4 linked regions of the Homo sapiens genome follow. The protein of the gene in region 1 interacts with the protein of each later gene in a pairwise test. Each region holds a gene or a part of one and is shown on either strand. Other genes may lie near its edges. The genes, in order: PIM2, FBH1, TRIM14 and CUTC.

Region 1 (8,296 bases):
AAAATCTCCCCAGTAGCTGTACTACAGATAAACTTCATGGCACGGGTTTGATGCCTGACTTATCTGTACATCTCTGATACCAACATCCCCATCAAGGCCTGGCAGGCTTATAGCAAACCACCCCCAATAACGTTGGGTGAACAAAGGAGAGTACATGTGTGCTTTTTTGGTGTTGTCTGTGTGTGTGTGACTGTGGTGAGTCCAAGTCTTCATGTGCAGCTCACAGAGTGTCCCCAGTTGTGTGTGTGATGAAGGGCTTGTTTCCAGGTGTGTCAGATGGTGACTGAGTGTGGGACTCTTATCTCTGACAGTTTGTGTCTAAATCCAAGATGCGTGCATGCCTGCGTGGGTCTGTCTGTGACAGTGCATCTGTGGTTTCTGTCTGATGGGGTGGATGTCCGTTTGTGTTCCTGCAACAGATTCTGGGTAGCTATTTCTGGACAGTTTGTTCCATTGATAAACTGCATGTGTCATGGTGTATGTATGTCTGTGTCTGAACAGGTCTATCCATGTCTGTTTTTGTGACACTGCCACAAAATGTGATTCTATCACATCAGTACATGTCTGCCTTCAGAGCAGTGCATGTGTGTCCCTGGAGCATCTGTGCATCTTCCTGTGACAGACTCTGCGTCTCTCATTTCTGGGACAGTACAAGTCTTGCTGTGACAGTGCATATCTGATGGTGACAGTGTGTTTGTGACAAGTTCTGCCAGTGTGACGGGACATTTCTGTGTCATCACATGGCAAATGTAGGTCTGCGTGAGTGCCTTTCTGTAACAGTGTATCTCTGGGTGTCATTCTAGGACATAACTATTTTTCTGACAGTGTGCTTGCCTGAAAGTGTATGTCAGTCTCTGGCTGCATGTGTATCTAGGTCGTTTCTGTGAATGTGTCTGACAGTATGTGTTTGTGTATATCTTGGCATTCATGTGTCTTTGGAGTGCATTTTTCTTCCTGGGGTGTGGCGCCTTTTCTGGCTGTTTTTCACAAATTTGTGTCTGAGAGTTGCCACTTCTCTAGCAGCCTCTATCATGTCTCTCAGTCCTTGCCTCTCTCAACTCCAAGAGCAGCCCCATGCCACCACCACTCTGGGCTCACCCCCATCCCCCAAGAACCACCCCCTGCTGTTCTAGATTCTAGACTTGCTGACTGGGCCCAGGGCTCAGGGTTAAAAGCTCCAATAAACACTCACCAGGCAATGCTGCCTTTGACCAATGCACACCCGTGGCGTTGATGGTAGGGGTTCCCCCTCCCTGGCTACCAGATATTTCCAGGGCCCTGGCCTCAGCTTTCCAGTGAAGGCCGCCAGTCGCCTGGAGGACTCCGGTGAAGGAGTCCGACAAGCACCTTTCGAGACGGAGTCTTGGATAGCCACAAGCGCGAATTCTTAGAAGCCCGGCCTGGCGCTATCTCTGTGCTAATATCCAGGCAGCGGCGGCAAACCAACTTCCCAGGAAAGGATACTGCGCAGTTATTTTTTAAGTGTAAATACACACACACACCGCCACCACTACCAACAACAACCCCGCGCAACAACCAAAACAAGCGCGGTGCTGCAAAGGGATTCCCAGAACCGGTTTCCTCTTGGTGTGAGCCCCACCTCAAGCCCCCTCATTTACATGCAGGCCCCGCCTCCTCGGAAGAACCGAGCGTGTATTTGCATAAGGGGGCCCTTGAAACGATGAGGGTGGTATGCAAATAAGAACTGGCTCCGATTGGCTGTGGTACAGCAGGTGCCGCGTCCGGATTGATCAAAGCCAGGTGGGCGGGGCTGTCGCCCAGGGTGACTCTCCCGGGAGGCGCGTGCCCAGGCTCAGTAGCATTGGGGCTGGCGCGCGCGGCGAATCTCAACGCTGCGCCGTCTGCGGGCGCTTCCGGGCCACCAGTTTCTCTGCTTTCCACCCTGGCGCCCCCCAGCCCTGGCTCCCCAGCTGCGCTGCCCCGGGCGTCCACGCCCTGCGGGCTTAGCGGGTTCAGTGGGCTCAATCTGCGCAGCGCCACCTCCATGTTGACCAAGCCTCTACAGGGGCCTCCCGCGCCCCCCGGGACCCCCACGCCGCCGCCAGGTGAGTACATCCTCCCCTACTGCAACCAGACGGGGTGGGCTGGAATGATGGGTTGCAGCGCGGGGGGAGGGAGTCGTGGCTGGGCTCAGCACGCCGCCACCCTGACTTCCTCGCCTCCGCCTGCGTAGGAGGCAAGGATCGGGAAGCGTTCGAGGCCGAGTATCGACTCGGCCCCCTCCTGGGTAAGGGGGGCTTTGGCACCGTCTTCGCAGGACACCGCCTCACAGATCGACTCCAGGTATCCGTCATGAGGGTCTTGGGAGGGTCAGGTGCGTGTGGCGGGGGCGGGGGTCCTGGCCCTGGAATGCTGGTTGACCGAGGAGTGAGCCTGCAGAGTGTGTAGAGGACCAGGTGTGTGTGTGTGTGTGTCCGTGTCCGTGTCCGAGGAGTGAGCCTGCAGTGTGTGTAGAGGGCCAGGTGTGTGTGCGTGCGCGTGTGTGTGTCGGTCTAGGAGGTTATGGGCGGGGGGGGGGGGCAGGGGGCTTCAGATTCCGGAGTTCCTTGACCCCGGGGTCCAGGCTGTGTATGTGTGGGAAAGCAGGGACCTAGATGTGAGATTTGTGGGACTTTTGGAGGTAGGTGTCCAGTGTGGAGTCATGCGGACCAGGACCCTGGTACAGAGTTGGGGTGTCGTAGAGCTAAATAGGAAGATTGTGGGCCTGGGGTATCAGGAAATCTAGAACTCAGGACTTGGAGTGATGAGTCCTGATGCCTGAGAACGGAGAGCCCAGGGCTAAGGAAGGTGGGAGAGATAAACTTGGTTCCGAGGACCTGGAGGGCAGGGGAGACGCCCTGGTACGCGTTCTGTGGGGTGCTGTGGTTGGGGACCAGAAAGACTAGAGTGCTGGTAGATGGAGGAATACTGGAGGTAGGCAGAAGGTCTAGACTGGGAGGGGTCTGGGGATCACCTGCTGGCCTCCTTATCACGGCCTTCTTCTCCAGGTGGCCATCAAAGTGATTCCCCGGAATCGTGTGCTGGGCTGGTCCCCCTTGGTGAGTACCTTCGGAGCCCTTCCTAACCTACCTACTCCATCACTGATGTATTCACCTCCTTGCTTTTCCAGGGGATGTATGACTCCCTGGGCCCTGTAACAGTGAGAATACTGCCAGCCCATTTATACTCCCTTGGGGTGACATACAGTTCTGATTCACCCCAATTCCCCTAGAGCCCTGGATTCTCCCCTCCAACAAACCTTTACCATCCTTCCTCCAAACACTGCTGGGGGACTGCCCGCAGGGCGTGCTGGTGGGGAACAAGGGGCAGAGGTCACTGGTTGCCATGGTGATGGTGGCTGCTTCTCTCTTGCCGTTATAACGCTAACGGACATCAGGGCGGGTCTGGGCAAGTTGTAGAGTTGGGAGCGCCCCCTGGCGGGCTCTAGGGGAAACTGCGCCTGCGCAGTCCATGGGACCCAAAGGGAGAGGGTGCGCCTGCGCAATATCGGTATTTTTGCATCTCGGTGAGAAAACGTCTGCTGCCGTGCAAGTCAGCAGCCTGGCCAGGAGAGGGCTCTACCTCATCCCAGAAGGTTGCTGCTCGAAGTGTACCTGCGCAGGGCTTGGGGAGGCAGTGGGGGGCGGATTTTGTGGCCCCCAGCGTTTATACTTTTTTTTTTTTGGAGACACAGTCTCCCTCTGTTGCCCAGGCTGGAGTGAGGTGACGCGATCTCGGCTCACTGCAACCTCCGTCTCCTGGGTTCAAGTGATTCTCCTGCCTCAGCCTCCCAAGTAGCTGGGACTACAGGAGCGCACAACCATGCCCGGCTAATTTTTGTATTTTTAGTAGAGACAGGGTTTCACCATGTTGGCCAGGCGGGTTTTGAACTGCTGACCTCAGGTGATCCGCCTGCCTCGGCCACTCAAAGTGCTGGGATTACAGGCATGAGCCACCACGCCCGGCTGCATTTATGACTTTTTTTTTTCCTTGAGACGGAGTTTCGCTCTGCTGCCTGGGCTGGAGTGCAGTGGCGTGATCTCAGCTCACTGCAGCCTCCACCTCCTGGGTTCAAGCGATTCTCCTGCCTCAGGCTCCTGAGTAGCTGGAATTACAGGCACCCGCTGCCATGCCCGGCTAAGTTTTACGTTTTTAGTAGAGACCGTGTTTCACCATGTTGGCCAGGCTGGTCTCGAACCCCTGACCTAGTGATCTGCCCGCCTTGGGCCTCCCAAAGTGCTGGGATTACAGGCGTGAGCCACCGCGCCCGGCCTCTAATTTTGTATTTTTAGTAGAGACGGGGTTTCTCCATGTTGGTCAGGCTGGTCTCGAACTCCCGACCTCAGGTGATCTGCCCGTCTCGGCCTCCCAAAGTGCTGGGATTACAGGCGTGAGCCACTGCGCAGGGCCACATTTAGGCTTTTTATTGGCTGGTTCTAGGTGCTTGGTGATGCTGACAAAACACATGATAACACTAAGTCCTTTTGTGCTAGGTCCTTTGTAATAAATCACTCAGCTGTTTAACAAATTAGGTATATTGACCACCTACTATATGACAGACATAATTCTAGACACTCAGCAAAGTATTACATAAGTATTGAGAGCTCATTTTGTGCTAGGTCCTTTTTTACTAATTGTTTTCACCTGTTTAACAAATATTTATTCAGCCCTACTCTGTTAGCAGCCACTGTTCTAGTGCTTCATATACGTCCGTGAACAAAACAAACCATTACACAATAAGTGTTTATTGAGTGCTAACTGCTTGTCAGAGCCCATGCTATTAAGTGCTGTCATCTGTTTAACATTTATTGATCACCTGTGTAAGGTACTATTCTAATCTGGGATATGTCAGGGAACAAAACAAAACACATAATGGTGGTGCTGCTTCTGCTGAAAGCCTTCAGTTGATAACCAGATTTTTCTTTGTATTTTTGCTTGTTTGTTTTGAGACAGCTGGAGTGCAGTGGTGTGATCTTCACTGCAACCTCTGCCTTCTTGGCTCAAGCGACCCTCCCACCTGAGCCTCCCAAGTAGCTGGGACTACAGGTGCATGCCACCAAGCCTGGCTAATTTTTGTGTTTGTGCCATTTTGCCCAGGCTGATCTTGAACTCTTGGGCTCAAGCAATCCACCCACATCAGCCTCCCAAAGTGCTGGGATTGCAGGGATGAGCCACTGTGCCTGGCCGAACTTCTTTCGTTTATTCAAATGTTTATTGATCTACGACATGCGAGATTTGTGCAGGCTCTTTGCTGGTTTCACCCTCTCAATCGCTGTGTGAGTTTGTGTCTTTAGGGAAAGTGAGGCCCAGGAAGGGAAGTGAGTTGCTTAGCGACACACTGTCAGGAAAAGGGGCCCTGAGTTGAGCTTAGGTAAAAAGCCTCAGAGCTGTTGCCCTGACATCTGTCTTTTTTCTCTCCCTGCTTCCCACCCCACCTGTGCCCCCAGTCAGACTCAGTCACATGCCCACTCGAAGTCGCACTGCTATGGAAAGTGGGTGCAGGTGGTGGGCACCCTGGCGTGATCCGCCTGCTTGACTGGTTTGAGACACAGGAGGGCTTCATGCTGGTCCTCGAGCGGCCTTTGCCCGCCCAGGATCTCTTTGACTATATCACAGAGAAGGGCCCACTGGGTGAAGGCCCAAGCCGCTGCTTCTTTGGCCAAGTAGTGGCAGCCATCCAGCACTGCCATTCCCGTGGAGTTGTCCATCGTGACATCAAGGATGAGAACATCCTGATAGACCTACGCCGTGGCTGTGCCAAACTCATTGATTTTGGTTCTGGTGCCCTGCTTCATGATGAACCCTACACTGACTTTGATGGTAAGGCTTCTCTAAATCTCCCTGGAGGGATTGTTTTTACTTGATGGCCTTGTGACCTTTGGCCTCCAGTGGTGGGGTGTCCTGTAATCCTTGACCCATACTGCATTATATAAGATGATCGATTGCTAATACTGGGGATTCTCAGCCTTGCCCTCTGATAAAGTCCATCTTTTAATGGTGTGCTAACCTTATTCTGGGCTCCTATTCTGGTGAGGGGATCCTGTTACCATCCTGAGTATTCTTTCTCTGGTAAGGGGATCCTGTTACTTTTCAGTGCTTTTATTCTGTTGAGGGGACTCTGTTATTTTAGCTGCTTTTTATCTAGTGAGGGGACTCTGCTTTTATCTTGAGTGCTCTTAATTGTGGTGAGGCCATCCTTCCTGGAGAGTTTGGGGTTGGAGAAGGGCATCATGAGATTGAGTTGGTCTAACCCCTGGCTTGTGTGCAGGGACAAGGGTGTACAGCCCCCCAGAGTGGATCTCTCGACACCAGTACCATGCACTCCCGGCCACTGTCTGGTCACTGGGCATCCTCCTCTATGACATGGTGTGTGGGGACATTCCCTTTGAGAGGGACCAGGAGATTCTGGAAGCTGAGCTCCACTTCCCAGCCCATGTCTCCCCAGGTGAGGCCTCACTGACCCCAGCCCAGAAGACTCCATCCTTCTCAGGGACCAGTACCCCCTACTGACTGCTAATCTTCCCTCTCTGCTTCTTGGCCTACAGACTGCTGTGCCCTAATCCGCCGGTGCCTGGCCCCCAAACCTTCTTCCCGACCCTCACTGGAAGAGATCCTGCTGGACCCCTGGATGCAAACACCAGCCGAGGATGTACCCCTCAACCCCTCCAAAGGAGGCCCTGCCCCTTTGGCCTGGTCCTTGCTACCCTAAGCCTGGCCTGGCCTGGCCTGGCCCCCAATGGTCAGAAGAGCCATCCCATGGCCATGTCACAGGGATAGATGGACATTTGTTGACTTGGTTTTACAGGTCATTACCAGTCATTAAAGTCCAGTATTACTAAGGTAAGGGATTGAGGATCAGGGGTTAGAAGACATAAACCAAGTCTGCCCAGTTCCCTTCCCAATCCTACAAAGGAGCCTTCCTCCCAGAACCTGTGGTCCCTGATTCTGGAGGGGGAACTTCTTGCTTCTCATTTTGCTAAGGAAGTTTATTTTGGTGAAGTTGTTCCCATTCTGAGCCCCGGGACTCTTATTCTGATGATGTGTCACCCCACATTGGCACCTCCTACTACCACCACACAAACTTAGTTCATATGCTCTTACTTGGGCAAGGGTGCTTTCCTTCCAATACCCCAGTAGCTTTTATTTTAGTAAAGGGACCCTTTCCCCTAGCCTAGGGTCCCATATTGGGTCAAGCTGCTTACCTGCCTCAGCCCAGGATTCTTTATTCTGGGGGAGGTAATGCCCTGTTGTTACCCCAAGGCTTCTTTTTTTTTTTTTTTTTTTTGGGTGAGGGGACCCTACTCTGTTATCCCAAGTGCTCTTATTCTGGTGAGAAGAACCTTACTTCCATAATTTGGGAAGGAATGGAAGATGGACACCACCGGACACCACCAGACACTAGGATGGGATGGATGGTTTTTTGGGGGATGGGCTAGGGGAAATAAGGCTTGCTGTTTGTTCTCCTGGGGCGCTCCCTCCAACTTTTGCAGATTCTTGCAACCTCCTCCTGAGCCGGGATTGTCCAATTACTAAAATGTAAATAATCACGTATTGTGGGGAGGGGAGTTCCAAGTGTGCCCTCCTCTCTTCTCCTGCCTGGATTATTTAAAAAGCCATGTGTGGAAACCCACTATTTAATAAAAGTAATAGAATCAGAAGCGGCTGGCCATTTGTAGGTGTGAGGCTTTTATGGAGCATCTACTGTGCACTGAGACAGACTGTCCCTCTGCTTTGTCCTCAGGAAGCCACAGTCTTATGTTGCCATCCTAAAGAGCTTTAAGGATTCTTGAAGCTGCACCACACACACACAAAAAAATCTTGATTCCCCTGCCCCTGATCTTATGCAGTGCCCAGTATGTGCAGAAGGGTTCTCTGTTGGAGATACTGTGCATATTGAAGGTGTTTAGGGCACATCCCCAATCAAGATGGCTATCTCAGAAGCAGAAAAACTACCTTCCCTGGCACCCCAGGGGAATGAAGAAGCCCTTTCCCCTGTTGCAGAAGAAAAGCCCTGTCAGGGTACTGGCCAGGGCGGGGCTGGGGTTGGGCGCTGACTGGAATCTGTCCAGGGTGTAGTCACCTGTTTTGCTCTTTATCTTTAGCCTCTTCCCCCATCTTTACCCTTACATACCCATCCCTCTAATTTCTCCTTCAACACTTGACTTACCTGGCCTACCCTATTCCATGTTGGTTTCACTTGTTCCGACCTGAGTTGTTCCCTCTCTTGCCCTGCTTATTTGTCTCGGTTCAGTATAAACTCCGCCTTCCGGGTTCCAGCGGTTCTCCTGCCTCAGCC
Region 2 (8,453 bases), on another chromosome or scaffold:
AGGTGGTGAAAATTATGGCCTTTGCCGGTAAGGGAGCCCACATCAGGTTCACGAGGTGGTGGTTTTCTGCCTTTTCTCCCTACATCCCCTTCCCGCTACCTGCCAGGGCATCTTTGCTCTGATCTGTCATCCAACTAATAATTCAATAACAGATCAAATAATCAATCTCAAAAGCAATTGGCCAAGGAATACTTACTTCCCCGGACCACTCCATGAACATCCACAGAATTCCTGTTGAGACAGGTAGTTCACAGCAGTTAGTTGGTCGGGCAGATGCCCCCGGGATTGAGCCCAGCATTGTGATGTTTGCTCAGGCACTGATTGCTTCTGGAGAGGGAGGGCATGTTAATCCCCAGCCCAGGGTTTCAGGAGCTCCCCAGTTTTATAGGGTGATGTCTAGAGGGCCTGCCTTAGATTGGCTTTTAACTTACATTCATAAATATATTATCTACAAGTGTCCTGCCTCAGTCAGCCACGCCGATCCACTCACAGCCTCCTGAAGTACTTGGTTACTCTTTCATCACAGCCTTTGCTCGTGCTATTTGCTATTTTTTTTCTGCCTGTAATCCCTTCCTGCTCCTTTTGTGGCTAAATACCCTGCTAACAACAACAACAACATTTTGAATGCCTGCAGTGTGCTTGGCATTGTGCTGATCCTGATAGCATTCCGTAAGGTTGCTTAGTTATTCTTGTTTTATAGAGGAAGAAACTGAAGCACAGAGAGCCTTGCCCGGGGTTGAATAAGTGGATAGGTGGTGGAGGTGGAATTCAAAGCTGGACCTGTCTCTCTCCAGAGACATGCCTTCCCCCTCCCTAACCCTACCCTCCTATCCTGAGGGGTCCTTTTTGCCCTCGGGAACCCTACCTCTAATGGATACCCACTTATTTCTGAGAAGCAAACTGAAGCTCATGAGGTCAAGGGGTCCACCTGTCCTTTGCCCCTCGGCTGGAGCCTGCCCCAGCTGAGATCCCAGCCCACCTTCACCTGGCTTTGAATCTGCTGCTCTTTTGGTGGCACTACTTTTACCAGCACTGAAAAACTTGTTACTGTCCTGCTCTCAAGACAGAGGTGTGATAAGCCTGGACAAGGCCTGATTGGGGATCCCTGGGCATGTCTTGTCTGGTCAGAGGGTCACCTCCTTTCCTCCTGGCTTCCCCAGGCACTGGGAAGACCTCAACGCTGGTCAAGTATGCAGAGAAGTGGTCTCAGAGCAGGTTTCTGTATGTGACATTCAACAAGAGCATCGCAAAGCAGGCCGAACGCGTCTTCCCCAGCAACGTCATCTGCAAAACCTTCCACTCCATGGCCTACGGGCACATAGGGCGGAAGTGAGTACTGCTGTCACTAGTGGCACTGTTGCTGCTGGCACGGTCGCGTCTTACTGTTTTCCCGTGACGATCACATGTGAGCTTACACCACAGTGACCCCGAGGAGTGTAGTGCTGTTATCTCCACTTACAGGCAGGAAACAAATACATAGGTTTAGCCATTTGTACTTTTATCCTGTAGCAACATATTGTTTACATATAATGCCGTCTTGCCAAGAGGGGTGTTCTCATGGAAGTGAGGCACAGAAAGTCAAAATGACTTGCTTAAAGTTCAGAGTCTCACAAATCCTGATCAGTTGTAGGCTTTTCTTGGAAGGGAGTGAGGAAGACTCAGCCGAGGCACACTTGACCCAGGTCTCCTGGATGTAGAGGCATCAGGGAACTCCAAGGGTCCCTCCGGGGACCTTCTGGAGCCCAGCTTCATGGTGGAATAGCAGTGTCTGCCGAAAGCTGGTTCCTATTCTGGGTTGGTACATGTGAGTCCTGAAAGCCATTTCCAGTCAGACATGGACCATGCAGAACTTTTTCGCTTTAAAACATTAACACTCGCCTGTGTGTGGCACTTGAAGCTACCTCCTGGTGACATTAGAGAGAATGGAGGGGACGTTCAATAGCACCAAGCCAGGAGAGCCACGTGCTGTTCATTTGGGATGGGTATTGCAGGTACCAGTCAAAGAAGAAGTTGAATCTCTTCAAGTTAACACCCTTCATGGTCAACTCCGTCCTTGCTGAAGGGAAGGGTGGATTCATAAGAGCCAAGCTTGTGTGTAAGACTCTAGAAAACTTCTTTGCCTCGGCTGACGAAGAGCTGACCATTGATCACGTGCCTATTTGGTGTAAGAACAGCCAAGGACAGAGAGTCATGGTTGAGCAGAGTGAAAAACTGGTGAGTGTCTAAGTGTCTGAAGTGTTAGGGATCTGAGGATGGGGGAACAGGGGAAGTGTTAGGGATCTGAGGATGGGGAAACAGGGGAAGTGTTAGGGGTCTGAGGATGGGGAAACAGGGGAAGTGTTAGGGGTCTGAGGATGGGGAAACGGGAAGTGTTAGGGATCTGAGGATGGGGAAATGGGAAGTGTTAGGGGTCTGAGGATGGGGGATCAGGGGAAGTGTTAGGGATCTGAGGATGGGGGAACGGGAAGTGTTAGGGATCTGAGGATGGGCAAACAGGGAGTGTGGGACAGCATTATTTCTTCTTTCATTTCTTCAGACCTGGTCATAGGAGGTTGAAGGTGGGAGGGTGAGGCTGTAGGCCCATGGTGATGGCTGTGAATTGTTGGGTATTTTCTCCTGTGAAGGACACTGGTGACCATCTCACTTAAGCCTCGGAATAGTCCTCCCATTTAACAGAGAAGGCAGACATGGAACGACCCGCCTCAGTTTATAAGAGCTTGTCACTGGGGCTCCTGGACCTCAAAACTGATCTTAACTGAAGGCTGGAATCTCTCCTGATTTTCTTGGGTTATTGGTTCTATGGAATAGATTTTGCTAGTGGGAAAGTCTGTTTCTTTTTTTCATCAAGTCTTTTCAATCATGTGCCATTGTTTTTGTGAATTAAGCATCAGTCATAAATCTAGAAGAACAATTTGGCCTTTTCTGGTTCACCTAACTGTTATGATCTCTGTCCTGTCACGGGCATGGCACGGCCCGGCTGCTTCCTGTCTCAGCACTGGAGACCCTCTGGCGTGGAGAGGCTGTTGAGGAGACCCAGGAGGTTAGGGTGGTGTCTGCGGTCCCCCTTCTGTGAGGATGCCCTGGCTCCACTGCTGTATGGGAGTTGACAGTGTGACCGCAGGGTGCTGCCTTTGCCAGGGTCTCAAACTCTGGGTTACCATATGCTTTACTTCCTAGAATGGTGTCCTTGAAGCGAGCCGCCTCTGGGATAACATGCGGAAGCTGGGGGAGTGCACAGAAGAGGCGCACCAGATGACTCATGACGGTAGGCGGCTGCCGAATGGCGGGGACTGGCCAATGGGACTGCCTTCCTGGCGTTACAACTCCTGCGTCTCTCCTTATTTTAGGCTACTTGAAACTCTGGCAGCTGAGCAAGCCTTCGCTGGCCTCTTTTGACGCCATCTTTGTGGATGAGGCCCAGGACTGCACACCAGGTGATACACTGTTCAGGACATCAGTAGTGTCAAATACGTAGAAACAGCGCCATGATTATGTAAGAGGACACCTGTGTGAACTAAGTTGATTATTATTATTTGTGATAAAGAAGAGGATCTTCATACTTACCTTAGGATTTCAAGCTGCCCCTTCCCCTCACCCAAGCAGATTTCTCTGTCACCATAGGTTTTGCTTAGGTTGTTCTTAACATGTTGACCAAGTTGTAGACCAGCAGACGACAGGGACCTAGACTCATGCTCTGTGGGAAGAGATCGTCCATTGACAGGGAAAAGCTTGTGTTGTCTACTTCTCAAGTGGCTAGGAGAGAACAGACAGTGTTATCCGTCTGACTTTGTAGGTCAATTTTGAGTGCTATAATATTAGAGAAGACACTGCCTCATTTTAGATTTGCCTGTGTTGTTTTCTTATATTCCAACAATTCATCCAAGGCGAAACATAATCTGCATTCCTAGCACCAGAAACTGTTTCTTTTGTCCATTATAAAATGGCTGCTTTTGATGGAGTGTGCCTGTCCTACAGGAAAAGGCGACCGTGAGGTCCAGTGTGCCCTGGCTTAGCTTCGTGGAAGTGTTTTTGTCCTTTTCTTTTTGCTGCCTGGGGTGGAGGCCTCAAGGTTTCTCACTTTTCCTCTCGTTGGTTACAGCTATCATGAACATAGTTCTGTCTCAGCCATGTGGGAAAATCTTTGTAGGGGACCCGCACCAGCAGATCTATACCTTCCGGGGTGCGGTCAACGCCCTGTTCACAGTGCCCCACACCCACGTCTTCTATCTCACGCAGGTAAGTGCGCACTCTGCATGGGAGGCATTGCATCTCTCTCCCAATGTCTTACGTGCCAGGCCCTGTGAAAGGTGGTATGCCAGGCTCACCAGATCTAGCAAATCCTTGCTTCTAAGCCATGGTTCTCAAAGTGTGGTTCTCAGGGGTCTGCCAAGTCACACTGTTTTCATAAGAGGTGTGTGCACAGCGGTCGTCTGAGGAAGAGCTGCTGCGGCTGAACTGTGAACCGATGGCTGCTGCCGCCTTGTACATTTGTGCTTAGAACAGTTGTTAGACCAGCGCTGGTTGTTCAGACTTGTGTATTTGGCACTTTTTCAAAGACAAGTGAAACAAGCTGCGACTTCAGGGAAAATAACTGACAGTGTTTGTTGTCAAAAGTAACATCTTTGCTTTCAAGTGAAATTAAAATGTTGGCAAACTCTCCCATAATGAATGTGACAACTCACAGTGTCCTTGATTATGCGAAAAGTTTATTATGCGCTCCTTCCTTTCCAATCACATGTCTGTGTGAGGTTGAATTTTCTTCATGTGTGTCAGCCAAGACAGTATATCTCAGCAGGCAATGCAGATGTGAACACAGGAAGCCAGCAGTCTTCTGTTATGCCAGGCATTGAAGAGATTTGCAAAAATGGAACATGGTGCCACTCTTCTTGCTGCATTTTTTTTTGTTCTCGGAAATATGTTTCAAAAAATATGTTCTTTATGTCATCATATAAGAGGCTTTTGGCTGGGCATGGTGGCTCATGCCTGTAATCCCAGCATTTTGGGAGGCCAAGAAGGACAGATCACTTGAGGTCAGGAGTTCAAGACCAGCCTGGCCAACATGGTAAAACCCTGTCTCTATTAAAAATACAAAAATTAGCCAGGTGTGGTGGCTCCCGCCTGTAGTGTCAGCTACTCAGGAGGCTGAGGCAGGAGAATCACTTGAACCCAGGAGGCAGAGGTTGCAGTGAGCCGAGGTCGCACCATTGTACTCCAGCCTGGGTGACAGAATGAGACTCTGTCTTAAAAAAAAATAGTTTTTAATAGTTATTTTTAAATGAATTAAAATTTATAATATGGTAAATATAGATAGATAGAGCTCATGTAAATAAAAGCTCTTTGGAGGCTTTTTAAGTGTGATTTTTAAGTGTGAAGCATCCTGAGACCAGCAGTTCGAGAACCACTGCTTTTAAGAAACTTATTTCTGATTAGAAGAGATGTCTCACTTGGATGAAAGTATCAACTGTGCTGTGTTTTGTGATGTTATTGAAAGTTCCGTAGACGCCTCTGTGACTCTTCCCTTGAGCTCCTACTGCTGTGGTGATTTAGGGTAGCGTCACTGCAGAGGTGATTTGTTCTTTTAATAGATGGTATTTTTTTAGAACAGTTTCAGATTTACAGAAAAATCGAGAGGAGAGTTCCCATATATCCTGTACTCAGTTTCCCATTACTAACATCTTATCGTCTTATATTAATGTGGAACACTTGTCACGATAATGAACCAACATTGATACATTATTATGGACTGAAGTCCATGGTTCATTTGCATTTCCTTAGTTTTGAAATAATGTCTTTTGTGACTTCAGGAGCCCATCCAGGATCCCACATTACATGTAACCATGTGTCATGAGGCTCTTCTTGGCTGTGACAGTTGCTCAGACTTTCCCTATTTCTGATGTGACCTTCACATTTTCCAGAAGTTCCAGTCAGGCATTTGTAGGCTGCCCCTGTGCTGGGATTTGTCTAATGTCTTTTCTCATGGTTAGGCTAGAGTCCTGGGTTCTGGGAGGAAGACCACAGAGGTGAAGCGCCATTTTCATCACATGGTGTTGAGGTGCATACTGTCACCATGGCTCATGACTTGATGTTGACCTTGACCACCTGGCTGATGTAGTGTTTGTCAGGTTTCTTCACTGTAGAGTTCCACTTTTTTTCATCCTTTCCTTACTGGATGCTTTGGAAGGAAGTCCCTATATGCAGTCCACACTCAAGGAGTAAGTGTTGGAGAATCTTCCCAAATTATTTGGAATTCTTCTGTAAAGGAGATTTGTTTTTTCTCTCCCATCTATTTAAATATTCAATCATTTATCTATCTTAATATGAACTCATGGATATTTATGTTATAATTTCGGTTATGGTTCACTCAGAGTAGTTTTATAGCAACAAAGTAGTGTTTGTTTAAAGTCTAGTTTTCGTTTGACTGTTACTGCTATTCACCAAAGCACATGAAGTTGTGTGTGCATGGAAAAAGGCTGTACACACCCCGAGTGTAGGGAAGAATGATATCTTGCCAGCTGGAGGGGCGAAGGAAGCAGGGTCTTGGGCTGAGTTTTGAAGGTTAGGAAGTGACTTTGGTGGATGAAAGTCAGACAGAAAACCGCGTGGGCTGAGGCAGGGCAGCACGGACAATGTGCAGGTGCTAGTGCTTCTGCCATGGCTGGTTGGTGCAGGGCAGTAGTTTTAAAGGTAGTGTGGAGAGGGATCTCAAAGGCAAGGGGAGAAGCCCTCCTTACCCGATCTTCATCTTTTGTATGATTTAGACTTCACTAGATTTGATTTGGAGAAAAGGGTAGATTTGCTTAAAAGAAAAATTTACTATTGGTGTTGAGAATAATGGAAAATAAAGACTGCTGAGTTGTGAAGGACCTTGAAAGTGAGCCTGTGAAGTTCGCTTTCCATGCGGGGGGTCAGGAACAACTTGTAGGGTCTGGCCCGGCCAGGCTGTGGCAGCAGTGATGGAAATGCACGGACACACCACAGGGCGGGCTGCTGACTCCCTCTGTCTTGTTGTTTTCAGAGTTTTCGGTTTGGTGTGGAAATAGCTTATGTGGGAGCTACTATCTTGGATGTTTGCAAGAGAGTCAGGAAAAAGACTTTGGTTGGAGGAAACCATCAGAGTAAGGCTTTTAGTTACTCTTCTCTTTTGTGTTACAAAAGTTTTCCTCTTTATTTCAATTTGCCATAGAGTTTGTGCTCTCTCCCTAAAGGTGGCATTAGAGGTGACGCAAAGGGGCAAGTGGCCTTGTTGTCCCGGACCAACGCCAACGTGTTTGATGAGGCCGTACGGGTGACGGAAGGGGAATTCCCTTCAAGGATACATTTGATTGGGGTAAGAGTACATTTCTGTTGACCACTTCATGCACAGAAACGTTGTAGACGAACATACCCAATGGAAATGTTCACCTTCCTTGGGATTATCATGCAAGAAAGCATTTGGGTTTTTGACTCTTTCCACCAGGCTGCACCATGAGTGGTCTCTATCCCAGGCCATTCTGATTATGCCAGCGAAACATTCCTGGAAAGGCAGACACAAGAAGGGCTGGGGACCTTAGTTTCCACTCTTTTAACAATGAATGCCCTTCTTCCCTTGGCAATGCCAGTGAGGCCGCGGGTTACTGGAAGCTTTTCTAGTCATGTGTTGTCATTAGTGTGAGAACAGCTGAGCTGACAACACGCAGAGTACACACCTAGGCTCTAGTTCTGACTGGTCACTAACCGTGTGTGGCTTGGGGCAAGTCACAACTTCTGTATGCCTCATTCTCTCCATCTCAGATAAAATAATGCCTTGCCTTACCTGTTTCACAGGGAGTTAGAAGGATTCAGTGGCATGTTTACAGCATTTTTAACCCTGAAGCACAGTTATATGATAAAAAGATATTCACTCATTCATTTATGGAAAGATTTTCAAGAGCCTACTATGCATTAGGCACTCAGTGAATATAGTAGTGAATCATAATCAAAAGGTGTTTTAAGTTTTTTGTTTATAAAGACTATATAACAATGGTATAGAAATTTTGGAACCTAAAAAAAGAACACATAATCCCAGTATTTCATATAATAATTCTCATTTTTGCTATTTTTGTCTTTGTCCTTATAGATGTGTATTTTTGCATAATTGCAATTGTAGGGTACACAGAAATGGATGCTGTTTTTCACTCAACACATAGGCATATTTTCTTTCATTAGTACTTTGATGACCTTATAATATTTGGTCTGGTAGATATAACATAATTTAGCCATGGTCATTGTTGTAAGAGTAGTATTTTTGGAATATCATACACACTGGCATGATATAAAGTAAGTGGTTCTCTACACCTCTCTTAAATCCACTTACTAGCTGTACCATGTGTCATTACACGTGATCACACACCTGGTTGTGGGTTATAATGTCAACTGTGTTATTTTGCCCGCTGTTTTATGTGAGTGTTTTATGTGTCCCTCCCTAAAAGATGACA
Region 3 (7,138 bases), on another chromosome or scaffold:
AGGCAGGAGAATCGCTTGAACCCGGGAGGCGAAGGTTGCAGTGAGCCGAGGTCGCACTACTGCACTCCAGCCTGGCAACAGAGCAAGACTCCGTCTTAAAAAAAAAAAAAAAAAAAAAAGTGCACAAATCAAAAATGTGCAGATCAATCAGCTCAATGATTTTTTAAAAAGGAAACATATTTTGTAACCACCTTCAGATCAAGAAATGGAAATTTCCACTCCCCAGAAGTCTTCCTCATGTGCCTTCTTGTTTACTATCCCCAAAGGGGATCCACTCTCCAGACTTCTAGGACTATAGGTTAGTTTTACCTGTTTTTGAACTTTCAGTAGATCATTCACACTATACCCTTCTGTGTTTTGCTTCTTTCACTCAATATGAGATTTATCCATTTTTGTATATTGACATACTGAGTGGCTGTTATAAATTCACTTAGTACTTCTAAGCTATCTACAGATTATTTGGGTTTTTGTGTAAATAAGCATGTCACCTATGAATAATAATCTTTCATTTCCCCGATCTTTATTCTTTCCTTTCACTTCTTTTTCGTGCCTTGAGTTACTGTCTACTACATTTAGAACATTGTTGAATAGAAGTGGTTATAATGAGCAGCATTTTCTCCCACCTTAGACATATATCCAACAGAAATGCATACATATGTGAATCAAAAGACCTGCACAAGAATGTTATGTGACCGAAACACAGGTTCAGTTGCTCAACGCTTTGCAGAGTTCAATTAACAAGAGCGAGGTCTGGTATAAAGAAAGTGGTTTTATTCTAAAGATTAGCTTAGGGGAAGAGGTACAGGCTCCTCCTGCCCTTAACGGTACCGCCTCACTTTTGGGGCAGAAAGCAGAGGCTTTTAAATGGGGACTTTGTATGAATGGCATGCAGGGAAGGAGCAAGCAGATGGGGGTCTATATGACTCATTTTGATGCGTTTTCTACCAAGTGGTTGAGCTGGTGCCATTGAGGGCAGAACTAGGTTGTAATGTGGCCGTTGTCTTGAGATGCTGTCCGGGTGGAAGAGTTCTGTTGAAGGCATACTTTATGTTGTAAATTGACTGTTGTCTCTTAAGGCAATCTCCTGGTGGGAGAAAGTTCTGGTTCTAGACCCTCTAAGTAGGTAGATAAGTTTGCCCTGTAGGGACTATCTGGTGAAGGGAAGGTAATGGTTATAATTACATTTCTAAAGAGCTAAGTAGAGGCAGGGCACAGTGGCTCACACCTGTAACCACAGCACTTTGGGAGGCTGAGGCAGGCGGATCACCGGAGGTCAGGAGATCAAGACCAGCCTGGCCAACATGATGAAACCCTGTCTCTACTGAAAATACAAAAATTAGCCAGGCGTGGTGGCAGGTGCCTGTAATCCTAGTTACTAGGGAGCCTTAGGTAGGAGAATCGCTTGAACCCAGGAGGCCGAGGTTGCAGTGAGTCGAGATCACACCACTGCACTCCAGCCCGGGCAACAAGAGTGAAACTCCATCTTAAAAAAAATAAAAATAAAGAGCTAAGTAGGAAGTGGGAGACAGGAGAAAAAGGGGGAAAATCTTAAAAATAATTCATTCTCTTTCTCTTAGAAAAATGCTCTTTTTCTTAGAAAACTCAGTCTCTGTTACACGTTTACAGTTATAGCAACATTAGTCACAATAGGCAACACGGAAACAATCCAAATGTCCATGGAAAACTGTTTGGCCTTGTTTATGAAAGCTGAATATCCACATACCCTGTGATCCAGACTTAAAAAACAACAACAACAACAACAAAAAAAACTTCATGTGTACATACATGGTGTAATGCAAAGAGAAATGTTAATGAGAGTTTAAATCACTACAAACTTTGGGGAGGATAGTTTTGCAATATGTATCAAAGACCTTAAAAAAATACCCATTGACCCAGCAATTCCTGTTTTAGGAGTATATTCTACAGAAGCAATCAGATACGTAAAAATGTAATTGTATTAGTGGTTTCAAAAGCTTTTTAAACGGAGGACTAAGTTATGCGTCCAAACATCAAAATTTTAGAATCTCCACTAAAATGCTCTTGTGAAAGGATATTATGATGTGTCAAAATGCCTCACAAGTAGATCAATCAATTTTAAAAAGCAGATTACCTAACGTCATGTATGGTGTGACACCAATATTAAGAAAAGCTATAAAAATTAGCCGGGCGTGGTGGTGGGCGCCTGTAGTCCCAGCTACTCGGGAGGCTGAGGCAGGAGAATGGCCTGAACCTGGGAGGCGGAGCTTGCAGTGAGCGGAGATCGCGCCACTGCACTCCAGCCTGGGCAACAGAGCGAGACTCCGTTTCAAAAAAAGAAAAAAAAGAAAAAGAAAAGCTATAAAGCAGCAAGGGGAGGGGAAAGATAGGAAGTACACACACCCTAATGTTAACAGTGATAGGATTAGTTTTAATTAAATTTGTATTAATTGGCAACAAATTTCACGGCACAAAATACAGACAGTATAAGGGATGTGCAGCAGAGTGATCTCTTCTTCCCCTTTCCCCAAGACCCCGCCCCAGGGGCAGTCGCGGTTTAAAGGGGTCTGTCACCCCTTCCTTGGGCCATTTCCGCGCTTCGCATTTTGTGATTTGCACGTGCGTTGGTGGGTTCCCGGGGGCGGGGCGCCGCGCTGGCCCCGCCCACCAGGTGCGTCCCTTGTCTCGCCCCCTGCAGACGCGCGCACGCCCACGCTGGATCCTGACACGATGCACGCGCGCCTGCGCCTGTCCGCCGATCGCCTGACGGTGCGCTGCGGCCTGCTGGGCAGCCTGGGGCCCGTGCCCGTGCTGCGGTTCGACGCGCTCTGGCAAGTGCTGGCTCGTGACTGCTTCGCCACCGGCCGCCACTACTGGGAGGTTGACGTGCAGGAGGCGGGCGCCGGCTGGTGGGTGGGCGCGGCCTACGCCTCCCTTCGGCGCCGCGGGGCCTCGGCCGCCGCCCGCCTGGGCTGCAACCGCCAGTCCTGGTGCCTCAAGCGCTACGACCTTGAGTACTGGGCCTTCCACGACGGCCAGCGCAGCCGCCTGCGGCCCCGCGACGACCTCGACCGGCTCGGCGTCTTCCTGGACTACGAGGCCGGCGTCCTCGCCTTCTACGACGTGACGGGCGGCATGAGCCACCTGCATACCTTCCGCGCCACGTTCCAGGAGCCGCTCTACCCGGCCCTGCGGCTCTGGGAGGGGGCCATCAGCATCCCCCGGCTGCCCTAGGGGCCAGGACCGGCGTGACAGCCTCCAGGTACGCCGCAGCTGCCCAGTCTCGCCTAATCTACCTAGATCAGCGTGGCTGGTCCCCTTACTGCCTGCTTCTTAGGGCCCTCTCCCTGCCCCAGCTTTCCCCGACCAATCACGCCTACAGTGCTTTGAAGGTTTCCTCTCCTAGGCTAGTTTCAAACAGGCCCTAAACAAGTCTGCTGCTGCCCTCTCATCAGACCTCCGCACCCTCACCCCACCATCACTTACACTACTTTAATCCAGTTCCTTCAAAGTGATACCCCCACAGGTAAGCCCTCAGCATCCTGAATACATCATCCGCAGCCTGGGAACCTTCTCCCTCGTACAGCACAGGAACCTGACACATAGTAGGCACACAGTAAACGTTTGTGAATGAATGGGAGTCATCCAGTCCTGACTCTTCTGTCTCTTGAGGTCCCTTGAATCTTCCGCTTCCTCCCCACCGATTTCAGCGTGTCCACATCACAGCTCCCTCCAGAAGCTGCAAGAGCTTCTTAGCAGTTCCTGGTCTGAACCCTCTCCCAGTCCTCATCTTCCACCCTAAAACTAGAGTGATCTTCCTAAAACTTCACTTAACCCCTCAGCTATGAAAAGGCTTCCAGGAGTTTCCATGAAATAACAAAAAAAAATACAAGCGCCTCACCTTAGCATTCAAGGCTTGTCTAGTCTGCCCAAAATTACTTATCCTCACCTAGCTCCTACCACTCTTCTTAGAGACTCTCCAGTCAGAAATGTGTCGCATAGTTCCACCTCCACACCTCTCTGCTGCCAGCACATTCATGCAGAAAAGTCTTTTCACCTGTCTCAGTCTTCCGCAGGCTTACCTGCGCCAGGAAGTCTAACCAAGGAACAAGAATCTCACTATCAGAGCCACAAATCTGGGACCTGTCTTTCCAACTAAATTGGAGGCTTTGGAAGGGCAGCTTTGTCCTATACTCTCTCCACCCTGAAAAGTTCCCAGAAAGCCCCTTCCCTCCCAAGCAGTGAATTAATAACCAGCAGGTGCCTATCACTGAGTAACAGAAGAGCTGAGTTAGGCGGGCCTCACAGGTCACCCAGCCAGATCTCATCTGGGGAGTCTGAGGTCCTGAAAGAAAGCAGAGCTGCGTAAAGTTACCCCGGGGTGATATAGGGGGGCCAGACGTGTGCCCCGTTCACCCACCCCCAGGCAAGCATCTGACCTGTCCCCTGGCCCAGCCCTTAGGCCCAGCTTTCAACCTGCTTACTCATTTCTCAGGGGATTTTGGGAAGGAATCAGCAGGTGACAGTTGCTAAGCAACCAAAGGGGGTGGTGTTTCCCAACTGTCTTGGGACAAAAAGGGTAAGAGCACCCTTAGATCCAGATGTTGCCAAGGAAACCCAGAGTGCCCAGCTGTCTGGAATGAAGTGACAGAGGTAGAAAACAGTAGGCCCTCACAGGAGGCCACCTTCGCTAGCAGGGAGTGGGAGGCTTCTTTCCAGGGATTTGTGTCTCCGTTCTGAAGGTTCTGCGTCCTGTTTTGTCAATTCCCTAGACGGTTTTGAAGTTATATTCTGTTAAAGCATCTTCATAGGTGCTTGGTGGGAGGCCAAGGTCGCCGAATCCTCGTGGTTTAAATAGACTTTCAGTGCATTAGTTTGAACCATATAAAACTGACAATTTTCAATAGTTTTTGAGTTAAAAATGGCACTTTTGATATGAGACAATGTAGCAGAATACCAGGCAGACAGAACCTTGCAAACACCTTAACTTCTAACCAAAGACTTTAAAACTCTGGCTGGACAGAGTTTTAAGCACTATGCTGCAGGAATCCTGAGAAAAAGGGGAAATTAATTCTATTAGGAATGGCCCAAACTGAATTGTGACAGGCAGAGGGTGTTCCTGACAGAGGGAAGATGAATACACTTGACCCCAACATTTCTGCCCATCCCTGATGACCAAGACCTCTTCCCAGACCCACAGCTGCAGGGGCCAAGTAATAACAGCTCTTAATAGTTTATAATGCACTGTTTTAATGCTTTACGACTAAACTCATCTGATCCTTTCATCAGCCCTAGAGGGTAGAAAGTTTTCCCAATTCTACACATGGCAAAATGGAGACCCAGAGTCACTTGCCCAAGGTCGCACAGCTAGTGGTGGAGCTGGAGTCTGGGCCCAGGCTGTGAGTTCCAGGTCTGTGCTCATGGCCACCAGGCCCTACTGCTCAGGGTGAATGCAGCTGGTCTCTGGCCAGTGCCTGGTGCTCTGGCCCCTCTCGTGGAGCTACTGCCCATGATGCTTTCCTAGTGCCTGGTTACTCTGCGAGACTTGAGTCTACCTTTGGACTGCCTTCCTTGGGGGTCTGAGATGAGGCCTTATGGCCCAGAGGGGAACTTGATTCAAAAATTTGGGATTCATGTAGCAGAGACAGAGCTAGACTGTAAAGGTCACAAACTAGCTGTGTCAAGGCCCGTGATAGCCAGAAAGCGGCAGTTTCAGTCCATATCAATTGTGTGACCAGGGCTAGTCACTTTTTACTTCTCAGTGCCATCTATAAAATGGGGATAATAGCACTACCTACCAAGTGCTGTGAGGCTCAAATGAGCCAAAGGTTATAAACTTGCCTTAAAACTATAGTCCTATACAAAAATTAGCTGGGCGTGGTGGTGCATGCCTGTAATCCCAGCTACTAGGGAGGCTGAGGCAAGAGAGTTGCTTGAACCCAGGAGGCGGAGATTGCAGTGAGCTGAGATTGCACCACTGCACTCCAGCCTGGGGACAGAGCAAGACTCTTGTCTCAAAAAAAACAAAAAAAACATATATACTGCTGTATCATGCCAGGATTTATCAGCATTCCCAAGGGAGCTTGCACGGTACTGACCGAGTGCTGAGACTACTGGTATTCCCAGCTGCCATGTGGCAGCAGCAGGAGCTACTAGAATATTCTCAGCACAGGAATGAGGCTTCCTTGGTTTCCATGTCTGTAAGGGTTACTGATCACTTACCTTCTTCTCTTTCAGACTTGAATCTGTAGACATTTCTTTATTGATATGGCAAATTGCTTGCAGATATTTTTAAATGACAGCAATTTTCTAATATTTGGTTTAATAAAATGTGAATAATGTCCCTTTTAACCATGGTCTTCACTGGGAGTTCATGTTGCTTCAAGTCCCTAGCACCCAGTGATACCCCCACAGGTAAGCCCTCAGCATCCTGAATACATCATCCGCAGCCTGGGAACCTTCTCCCTCGTACAGCACAGGAACCTGACACATAGTAGGCACACAGTAAACATTTGTGAATGAATGGGAGTCATCCAGTCCTGACTCTTCTGTCTCTTGAGGTCCCTTGAATCTTCCGCTTCCTCCCCACCGATTTCAGCGTGTCCACATCACAGCTCCCTCCAGTTCATGTTGCTTCAAGTCCCTAGCACCCAGACCCAGAAGGGCCTTTACTCATATCTTATTCCTTACGCAGCCTTCTGGTAGTAGTCAGCTGCTCCCTGATTAACTATCTCCAGGGATGGGGCATTCACTGCTTCTGAAGATAACTCATTAAAGTTCTCACTTACGTGTAAACAAACCCTGACTCCCACCTGTTCCCATCCAAGATCGTATTATAGCTTGAACTCCTGGTCTCAAGCAATCCTCCCACCTCAGCCTCCTAAGTAGTTGGGATTACAGGCTCACACAAGCACGCCTGGCTCACATACCACCTTCTAACATATTGTGTGACTGAATCACTATGCTATGGATTTTTATGCATCTGCCCCCATCTGAATGGAAGTTCTCTGAGGAAGGGATTGGGGCTTGTTCATGGCCATATACTCTGTGCCTAAAGCAGTGCCTGGCACAAAGATGGCCCTCAATATTTGTTCAGAGAAGGAACACATGCCATTTCCCTCTCTTTGCTCTGAAAGGAGTGCTTTCAGCATTTTCTGCCTAC
Region 4 (8,453 bases), on another chromosome or scaffold:
CATCAAGGATTAGGCTTTTATAAAATCTTTCCATGCTGGCATCCTTAGTATATTGAAATCCCCTCCTGGTCTTTGTGCTATTGTTGTCATATATTTTACTCATACATATATCAAAAACTCCATGCTGTATTGTTAGTTTTGTTTGAAGAGTCAATTATCTTTTGTTAAATAAGAGATTTAAATAATAAGAAAAAAATCATATATTTACCCACATGCAACTACCATTTCTGGTGTTCTTTATTCCTTTGTGTAGATCCCGTATTTCTGTCTGGTTTCATTTTCATTCTGCCTGAAGTACTTTCTTTAACTTTTTTTGTTAAAAAGTATGCTAGTGATTCATTCCTTCAGCTTTTATATGTCTAAAATAGCTTTTTCCTTCATTTTTGAAAGGTATTTTTGCTGGGTATAGAATTCTAGGTTGACAGGTTTTTTTTTTCTTTGAAGATGTTTTTCCATTGTCGTCTTGCTTGTATTGTTTCTGACAAAAAGCTATCATCCATATCTTTGTTTTTCTCTATGTAATATGTCTCTTTTTTCTACCTACTTTTAAGATTTTTTTATTATTGGTTTTGAACAATTTTCTTATGGTGTACCTGAGTATAGTTTTTTCATGTTTCTTGGACCTGTGCATTTATACTTCTCATCACATTTGGAAAATTTTCAGCTTGCAGCTTGTTCTCCACTCCCTCCTTTAGAGACTTAAGCTATTCTTACATTAGACTACTTGAAATTGTCCCAAAAGTCACTGATGAACTTCTCTATTTAAAAGAAAATCTCCTTTCTGTGTTTTCATTTTGCATAGTTGCTATTGTTTTGTCCTTGAGCTTACTGACCTTTTCTTCTGCACTATCTAATCTGCTATTAGTCTCTCCTGGTATGTTTTCATCTCATACATTGTAGTCTTCATCTGTAGAAATTTGAGTCTTTTTATGTCTCTGATGTCTCTTAACTTTTTTGAACATGTGGAATAAAGTTATGATAGCTGTTATAATGACCTTGTCTGCGAATTCTAACATCTATATCAGTTCTGGGTTTGTTTCATTTGATTTATCATCTAATAATATATCTTATTTTCCTGCCTTGTAATTTTTTATTGGATGCAAGACATTGTGAATTTTACTTTATTGGTTACTAGACATTTTTGAATTCCTACAAATGTTCCAAAACAGTTTGGTCCTTTTGGGTCTTGCTTTTAAGATTTGCTGGGCAAGTCTGGAGCAGTGGTTAATACAGAGCTAATTATTCCTTACTACTGAGTCAGGATTCTTCTGTGAACTCTACCCTGTGACCATGAATTTTGAAATTTTCCTGTCTGGCTGGTGGAATAGGCATTATTCACAGCTTGGTATGAATGACAGGCACATTATTTCTAATCCTTTTTATTGGTTCTGTCCCAGGCCTTGCGTAGTTTCTTTGCATGCATGCACCGGTCAGTACTCAGCTGAATATTAAAGGAGGTTCTCTGCAGACCTCCAGAGTTATCTGTCTTCCTTTCTTCTTTCATTCCTTCCTTTCCTTTCTTTTCTTTCCTTCTCCTTTTCTCTCTCTTTGCTTTCCTTCCTTCCTTTTTTTCTTTTGACAGGGTCTCACCTGTTGTCCAGGCTTGACTGAAGTGGTGTGACCATAGCTCCCTACAGCCTCAAACTCCTGGGCTCAAGCAATTGTCCTGCCTCAGCCTCTCAAGTAGCTAGGATTACAGGCATATGCCACCATGTCCAGCTACATTTGTTTGTTTGTTTGTTTGGTAGAGATGGAGTCTCACCATTTTACCCAGACTGGTCTTGAACTCCTTGCCTCAGGCAATCCACCCATCTCAGCCTCCCAAAGCACTGGGATTACAGGCATGAGCCACCGTACCAAGCCTATCTTTTTTAAAAAAAATCCTTTTTTTAAACCATTGAGATAGTCTTTGCTACTCCAGTGTTATCTTTCTGTCCTCCCTGTACTGTCTCCTATAAACTCTAGCTACTTCAGTCTTCCTGAACTCTAAGCTTTGTCTCCTTAACTCAGGGAATTGTTTTGGCTCCATGTGGGTCCCCCATCCCTGTGCTTTGGCCTAGAAACTCTCAAGGCAGTAAATTGGGTCAATCAGAATTGACTTACTAACTTCATTGTTTACCATTTTCAAGGATCATTGCCCTTCACTGCTTAATGTCCAGTGTCTTGCAAACCACTGTTTCATATATTTTGTCTGTTTTTTTATTATTATTATTATTATAGGTGGGAGGGTAAATCCAGTCACTGTTACCCTGTCTTGGCCAAAAGCAGAAGTCTGTGTATGAATTGTGGTCTCCTAAGTTATGCTACTCTGAGGTTGATAATAGCATTATTTAATGTAAAAAGTTTGTATACACAACAGCCCTTTGGAATCTTCACATGAAAAGAGGGCATTCCTGGCCATTCTAAAATCCCTAGAGCATGTCTGTAAATTTGAGTACAGTCTGTTTTTGTAACACCAATTATGATTCATTGCTTAGTATTGGACAACTGCTATCCTATGCAAAATTGGAGTTCTTTTAGCAAGAAAAAAGAAAGAAATTCATACTGGGTAAACAACTGATGGGGCCTGTCACAGCCTTATACTATTGATGGTTTATGAGCTAGCCACTTATTATGGCATATTTAGGTACTTTTATGCATAGATCTCTGCATAAAATCACAAATAAGTAGAACTTTGCTCCCTTTCACGTATCTTGTTTAAAAAAAAAAAAAAAAGGTTTTGCTAAATGTCTTTGCCCATTAAAGGAATATGAACTTTGAAGCTATTTAACCATCTCTCCAGTAGGTTTTAAATAGAGCTGTAATGAATTAGAAAGAAGAAATTGGATCTTGGGGAATAATGTACTGGCAGAACATCGAGCCTGGTAGTTATTGCACTTTCAAATGTCACCTACCAATAAAAGGGTTCTGAGTCATAAGGATTTTTGTTGAGTCAACTGACAAGTGCTTTTAAATTGTAGCATCTTCTGTTTTCTAAATCGTTCTATTTAACCCTTTGCTATTACTTACCTTCTACCATATATACATTTTTCTTCTCAGTGTCTGTCCTACCTTTTAGAGCCATCTTTGTCTGGTAAATGACCAATAATATATCATTGGCTTTTAGCTCACATTTGAATTTTAATCTGCTTTCTTTTCTTGTAGGTGTCCTTCAAGTAGTGAAGCAGAGTGTTCAGATCCCAGTTTTTGTGATGATTCGGCCACGGGGAGGTGATTTTTTGTATTCAGATCGTGAAATTGAGGTGATGAAGGCTGACATTCGTCTTGCCAAGCTTTATGGTGCTGATGGTTTGGTTTTTGGGGCATTGACTGAAGATGGACACATTGACAAAGAGCTGTGTATGTCCCTTATGGGTAAGAATTTGTATCTAAGACGTAAAAGCCTCTAATGATAATTGTATTTATGCTCACAATATAGAAAAACAACATCACAAAACTGACTTTGCGGTCATAGCTACAGACACTTATACTAACCTAAGTATTTCAAATAGTAGTTATTTAGATGTTTGGGGTGGGGTGTATGTGTGGCAAAGCCTTCTTAACTCTCCTCAATTGCTATAGATTAGGCTCCGCTACTGTTCCCATAGAATAGAAATTTAAGGGAAATTTACCATGGTTCCTTTAACCACTGCACCAAGAACTTCAAAAGTATTATAGTTGGTGAGGATGGACCACCAAGTTGGAAGATGCAAAGAGGACAGAAGCAAACTACCTATGTTACTAAACCAAAGTACTTATTGAATGACCTCAGAGGGACAAGTATTAGATGTAATGCTGCCCTTATAGTTGTCAGATTAAATGGTTTTCATTTGGTGATAAGCCACGACCATTTTTTTGTATAAAAATCAGAGATTTGTGGAAAGATAAGACTTTTGAATTTGTAAGGCTGCCATTTTATTATTATGTCAGTTTACTGTCTTGTTAGGCGAAGAAAGTATTAAAAAGTTTCAGCTAACATGGAGAATTCTATATATAGTAATCAGTGATGACATCTTCATTCATGTTGTTATATGACTTTCTTTTTATAGCTATTTGCCGCCCTCTGCCAGTCACTTTCCACCGAGGTGAGTCATTTTCATTTTAAAAGTTCTATTGAACAGTGTTAGTTTTCTAATTTCAACAACTGCCACCACCTTTTTATGGAACACAATTCTGTAGTGTTCCAAGGTTACCAATTGGTTTTTTAGATCCTAGGACTAAAAGTTATAAAAGTAGAGATGTGCAATTTCTAGAAAATTTGAAGCCTTAGTTATGAAAAGTTGTTAAAAGTGGGTGTAGGTGGTGGTGGGATATAAGAGAGCGAGGGAGAGAGCAAGTATTGCCTTCAAGTGTGTGTACCTATCATAGCATTCCAAGCAAGAATCCTGAGACTCATTTTAACTGAGACTGTATTAGGTCATGTGCAACCCCAAAAGAATAAATTGTTGTGGCTGGTGAAATGAAAGGTACTGTCTATCTTAAGCCAGGCAAAACCATCCCTGGGGCTAGCAGTGAGGTGGGGTTTCACAGATAGAGACTTCTTAAGGGGAGAGAAAGTTGGGTATCTGGAGAAGAATTGGGTCTTATTAGGAAGGGAGAAAGGAGAAACAGATGCAATCTAGTGTTGACTATCTAGTCAATGAACAGATGTCCACAATAGTATACAAAATTATTTTTCATTATAGCTTGTCTGCACCACAGTGATTTTTTAATGTGATACTTTCTTGTAAAGAAATATTTCCTGTAAAAAATCAGGTAGATATAATTTTTTTTGTTTGTTTGTTTGAGACGGAGTCTCGCTCTGTCGCCTAGGCTGGAGTGCAGTCGCACGATCCGGCTCACTACAACCTCTGCCTCCCGGGTTCAAGCAGTTCTCTGCCTCAGCCTCCCGAGTAGCTGGGATTACAGGCGCCTGCCACCATGCCCAGCTAATTTTTGGATTTTTAGTAGAAACAGGGTTTCACCATCTTGGCCAGGCTGGTCTTTAACTCCTGACCTCGTGATCCACCCGCCTTGGTCTCCCAAAGTGCTGGGATTACAGGCGTGAGCCACCACCCCTGGCCAAAAAATCAGGTAGTTATAATTTCTATACTCTTAGGCTACACCTTGGTAAAATGGAAGAACAAGTATCTATTTTGCCTTCAGAGAGCACTGCCATTGCACATGAAAAGAAGTCTACAGTCAAAAAAAATTTTTTTACTTCAAATTTCTGTTCTGTTCTTTATTCCAATAGGTTTAACAAAAATATTTTCATATTTTCAAAATTTGTAGAATTTTTGGGTTCCACATTTTTCTCACTAATGTATTTAATGAGATATCATAATATAGTTTTAGTGGTGAGAAGGTGCTGCCACCAAAATAGGGAAATCCTCTGTGGTAGATTTAGTTGCCTACATACACTAAAGGGTGAAATGAAGGGGCCTGTCCCAGAGGACCACTACCACCTAATCCACTGCAGGCTAGAGCTTCAATGTCATGTAGCAGTATGAGAACCAAAGCAGAAGTAGATTTTCTGTTTTCAGTTTCCTGATACCACTTTACTCTTTGAGGGCTCTGAGGAGGGGAGAAATCTCTTAGAAAGTAGGATGGGGCTGGGCACAGTGGCTTACCCCTATAATCCTACCACTTTGGGAGACCGAGGTGGGTGGATCACAAGGTTAGGAGATTGAGACCATCCTGGCCAACATGGTGAAACCCCGTCTGTACTAAAAATACAAAAATTAGCTGGGCGTGGTGGCGCATGCCTGTAATCCCAGCTACTCGGGAGGCTGAGGCAGGAGAATCACTTGAATCAGGGAGTCAGAGGTTGCAGTGAGCCGAGACCGTGCCACTGCACTCCAGCCTGGGCGACAGAGCAAGACTGCATCTCACAAACAAAAAAAAGTAGGTTGGAAGTGAAACTTCATATAGTCTGTTGAAAACAACTACCCTTATGCTATGAACCTTGAGTATGTGGGGTTAATAGATTAATCCAAAATATTAGTCAGTAATGAGAATGTGAGCCAAGGCTTTTTCTAGAACTGGTGAGTACAGTGTTTCATTCTACCTAGTCCAATATTTCTGAAGCCTTAGAACAGTTTCCCAAATTTGACTCACCTGCCTATCACATTTAAAATTTTACCATATATGAGTGCTACCTGTGCACATTTTTATTTAATCATTTTCTTTAAATAAAATCTTAAGTATGCACCCATAAAAAAGAACAAGATCATGTCCTTTGCAGAGGCATGGATGGAGCTGGAGACCATTATCCTTAGCAAACTAACATAAGAACAGAAAACCAAATACCACATGTTCTCACTCATAAGTGGGAGCTAAATGATGAGAACACATAGACACATAGAGGGGAACAACACACACTGGGGCCTTTCCGAGGGTGGAGGGTGGGAGGACAGAGAGGATCAGGAAAAATAACTATGAGTACTAGGCTTAATACCTTGGTGATGAAATAATCTGCACAACAAACTCCCAAGACACGGGTTTATCTGTATAACAAACCTGCACTTGTACCCCTGAACTTAAAAAAAAGTTAAAAAAAAGTAAATTTATTTTAAATAGAAACTTTTATAATTACTTTATATTGAAAACTTTTCATTTCTTATCTGCATTTAAGTAAATATACTATTTAAATGTGTACCATTATTAAAATGATTATGCACAGTGGTATGTAGACTGTGGTGTGCTGATGAACTGGCTCCTAGAAAAAAGAGCCCTGATTTGTAGCATTTTTAAATTTCTGTGGTTTAAATACTCTACCTTCACTGAATTTTTTTATTATTATTAATTAAATTTTTATTTTTCTTTTGAGACAAGTCTTGCTCTGTCGTCCAGGCTAGGGCACAATGGTGCAATTGGCTCACTGCAGTCTCGACCCCTTAGGCTCAGGTGATCCTCCCATCTCAGCCTCTCGAGTAGCTGGGACTATAGGTGCACACCACCATGCCCAGATAATTTTTGTATTGTAGATATGGGGTCTTGCCACATTGCCCAGGCTGGTCTCAAACTCCTGCGCTCAAGTGATCTCCCCACCTCGGCCTCCCAAAATGCCAAGATTATAGGCACGAGCCACTGCACCTGGCCCTACCTTCACTAATTTCAGGCTGCCAGTGGATTAACAATCTGACTTGCAGAATTCTTGAGTGTTTAATAATTGGCCTTTGTAAGCCAGTACAAGCTAGGTCCAGCATGCCACTGCATGTATACTACATTTTGGGAAACTCTGCGTTAGAGATACCTGTTCAAAATTCACATCAGTTTTATTTATTTCAGCCTTTGACATGGTTCATGATCCAATGGCAGCTCTGGAGACCCTCTTAACCTTGGGATTTGAACGCGTGTTGACCAGTGGATGTGACAGTTCAGCATTAGAAGGGCTACCCCTAATAAAGCGACTCATTGAGCAGGTACGTGGACTTTATCTTTTTTTCCCCTAAGACTCTGTTGTGGTTACTCCTGACATTCTGCTGTTTAGCCAGTTTGTGAGACTATATATTACTGACTTTGTGGTTACTCTGTAGGAAAAGCAAGCAGGCAATAATGTATATAATTCTTATTTCTTTCACACAAGCCTTTTTAATAACCAAGGCTTTCAAGATCAAATTACATATAGATAGTGCCTAAAGATCTGATCTAACTTGGATAAGCACAGCAAATTTTACCTTTTCTCTGCCATGGGCATTGCAGTTTTTTTTACTTTTTATTTTTATTTTTTAGTTTAGATATAAGGTCTTGCTGTGTTGCCCAGGCTGGTCTCGAACTCTTGGGCTCAAGCCATCTGCCTTCCTTGCCCTCCCAGAGTGCTGGGATTACAGGCATGAGGCACTGCGCCCAGCCAGCATTGCAGTTTTAAGCCACATCTTTTCATTGTCAGCCCATGTATATTCAGGGGATCCCATATAAAATTATCATCTGGAGGTAAATTCCAAAACTAAAATTATAATCTTATTTCTTCTCATCTGTCAATATAAGAGGAAATATATTTTTCTATTTTATGAGTTTTCCTGGTGAGCTAGCATCATTTGTAGAGCACTCAGAAGGTGACTTTGTAATTAATAGTATGTGTATTTTTCTGATGTCAGTCCAGAGGCATTATAAGTTAGTGAGTACAGACTTTGAGATGAGAGAGTTGAGCGTTTGAGACTCGGGTTTGATACTTGCTATGTGATGTTGAGCAGGTTAATAGTCTTTAAGCCTCTCTTTCCCCCTGTGTGAAACTGAGATGAGTTTAATACTTATTTTAGAGTTTCTCAGAAGATTGCTAAAGATGGGATGTGTTAGAGGCTTAGCACAGTGGTTGGCATATACTAGGTCTTAATAATGTTAGGTTCTGTTATTACTGCTATTATTAATAATACTAATGTTCCTGTGTAGACATCTGCTTATTTTCACTTTTCTATAGCCATGAAAATAATTTTCAGAAATTTCTCCTAAAGATCTGATGTGACTTTGCTATTCTGGGATGTAATGGTTTCACA

Evidence for each region.
Region 2: the proteins of PIM2 (region 1) and FBH1 interact in a two-hybrid assay, tested with the Homo sapiens proteins (one large-scale study listed by IntAct).
Region 3: the proteins of PIM2 (region 1) and TRIM14 interact in a two-hybrid assay, tested with the Homo sapiens proteins (one large-scale study listed by BioGRID).
Region 4: the proteins of PIM2 (region 1) and CUTC interact in a two-hybrid assay, tested with the Homo sapiens proteins (one large-scale study listed by BioGRID).

What each region holds. Positions count from the first base shown.
Region 1 is NC_000023.11:48,912,544-48,920,839, reverse strand, and holds PIM2 (serine/threonine-protein kinase pim-2), read left to right. Parts: upstream 1-1,815; 5' UTR 1,816-2,005; coding exon 2,006-2,066; intron 2,067-2,194; coding exon 2,195-2,304; intron 2,305-3,008; coding exon 3,009-3,059; intron 3,060-5,447; coding exon 5,448-5,820; intron 5,821-6,268; coding exon 6,269-6,445; intron 6,446-6,545; coding exon 6,546-6,709; 3' UTR 6,710-7,658; downstream 7,659-8,296. UniProt on the Homo sapiens protein: Proto-oncogene with serine/threonine kinase activity involved in cell survival and cell proliferation.
Region 2 is NC_000010.11:5,914,243-5,922,695, forward strand, and holds part of FBH1 (F-box DNA helicase 1), read left to right. Parts: coding exon 1-27; intron 28-1,160; coding exon 1,161-1,329; intron 1,330-1,991; coding exon 1,992-2,214; intron 2,215-3,177; coding exon 3,178-3,265; intron 3,266-3,347; coding exon 3,348-3,434; intron 3,435-4,099; coding exon 4,100-4,236; intron 4,237-7,015; coding exon 7,016-7,115; intron 7,116-7,205; coding exon 7,206-7,327; intron 7,328-8,453. UniProt on the Homo sapiens protein: 3'-5' DNA helicase and substrate-recognition component of the SCF(FBH1) E3 ubiquitin ligase complex that plays a key role in response to stalled/damaged replication forks.
Region 3 is NC_000009.12:98,083,542-98,090,679, reverse strand, and holds the end of TRIM14 (tripartite motif-containing protein 14), read left to right. Parts: intron 1-2,674; coding exon 2,675-3,210; 3' UTR 3,211-6,327; downstream 6,328-7,138.
Region 4 is NC_000010.11:99,740,009-99,748,461, forward strand, and holds part of CUTC (copper homeostasis protein cutC homolog), read left to right. Parts: intron 1-3,144; coding exon 3,145-3,354; intron 3,355-4,028; coding exon 4,029-4,064; intron 4,065-7,248; coding exon 7,249-7,382; intron 7,383-8,453. UniProt on the Homo sapiens protein: May play a role in copper homeostasis. Can bind one Cu(1+) per subunit.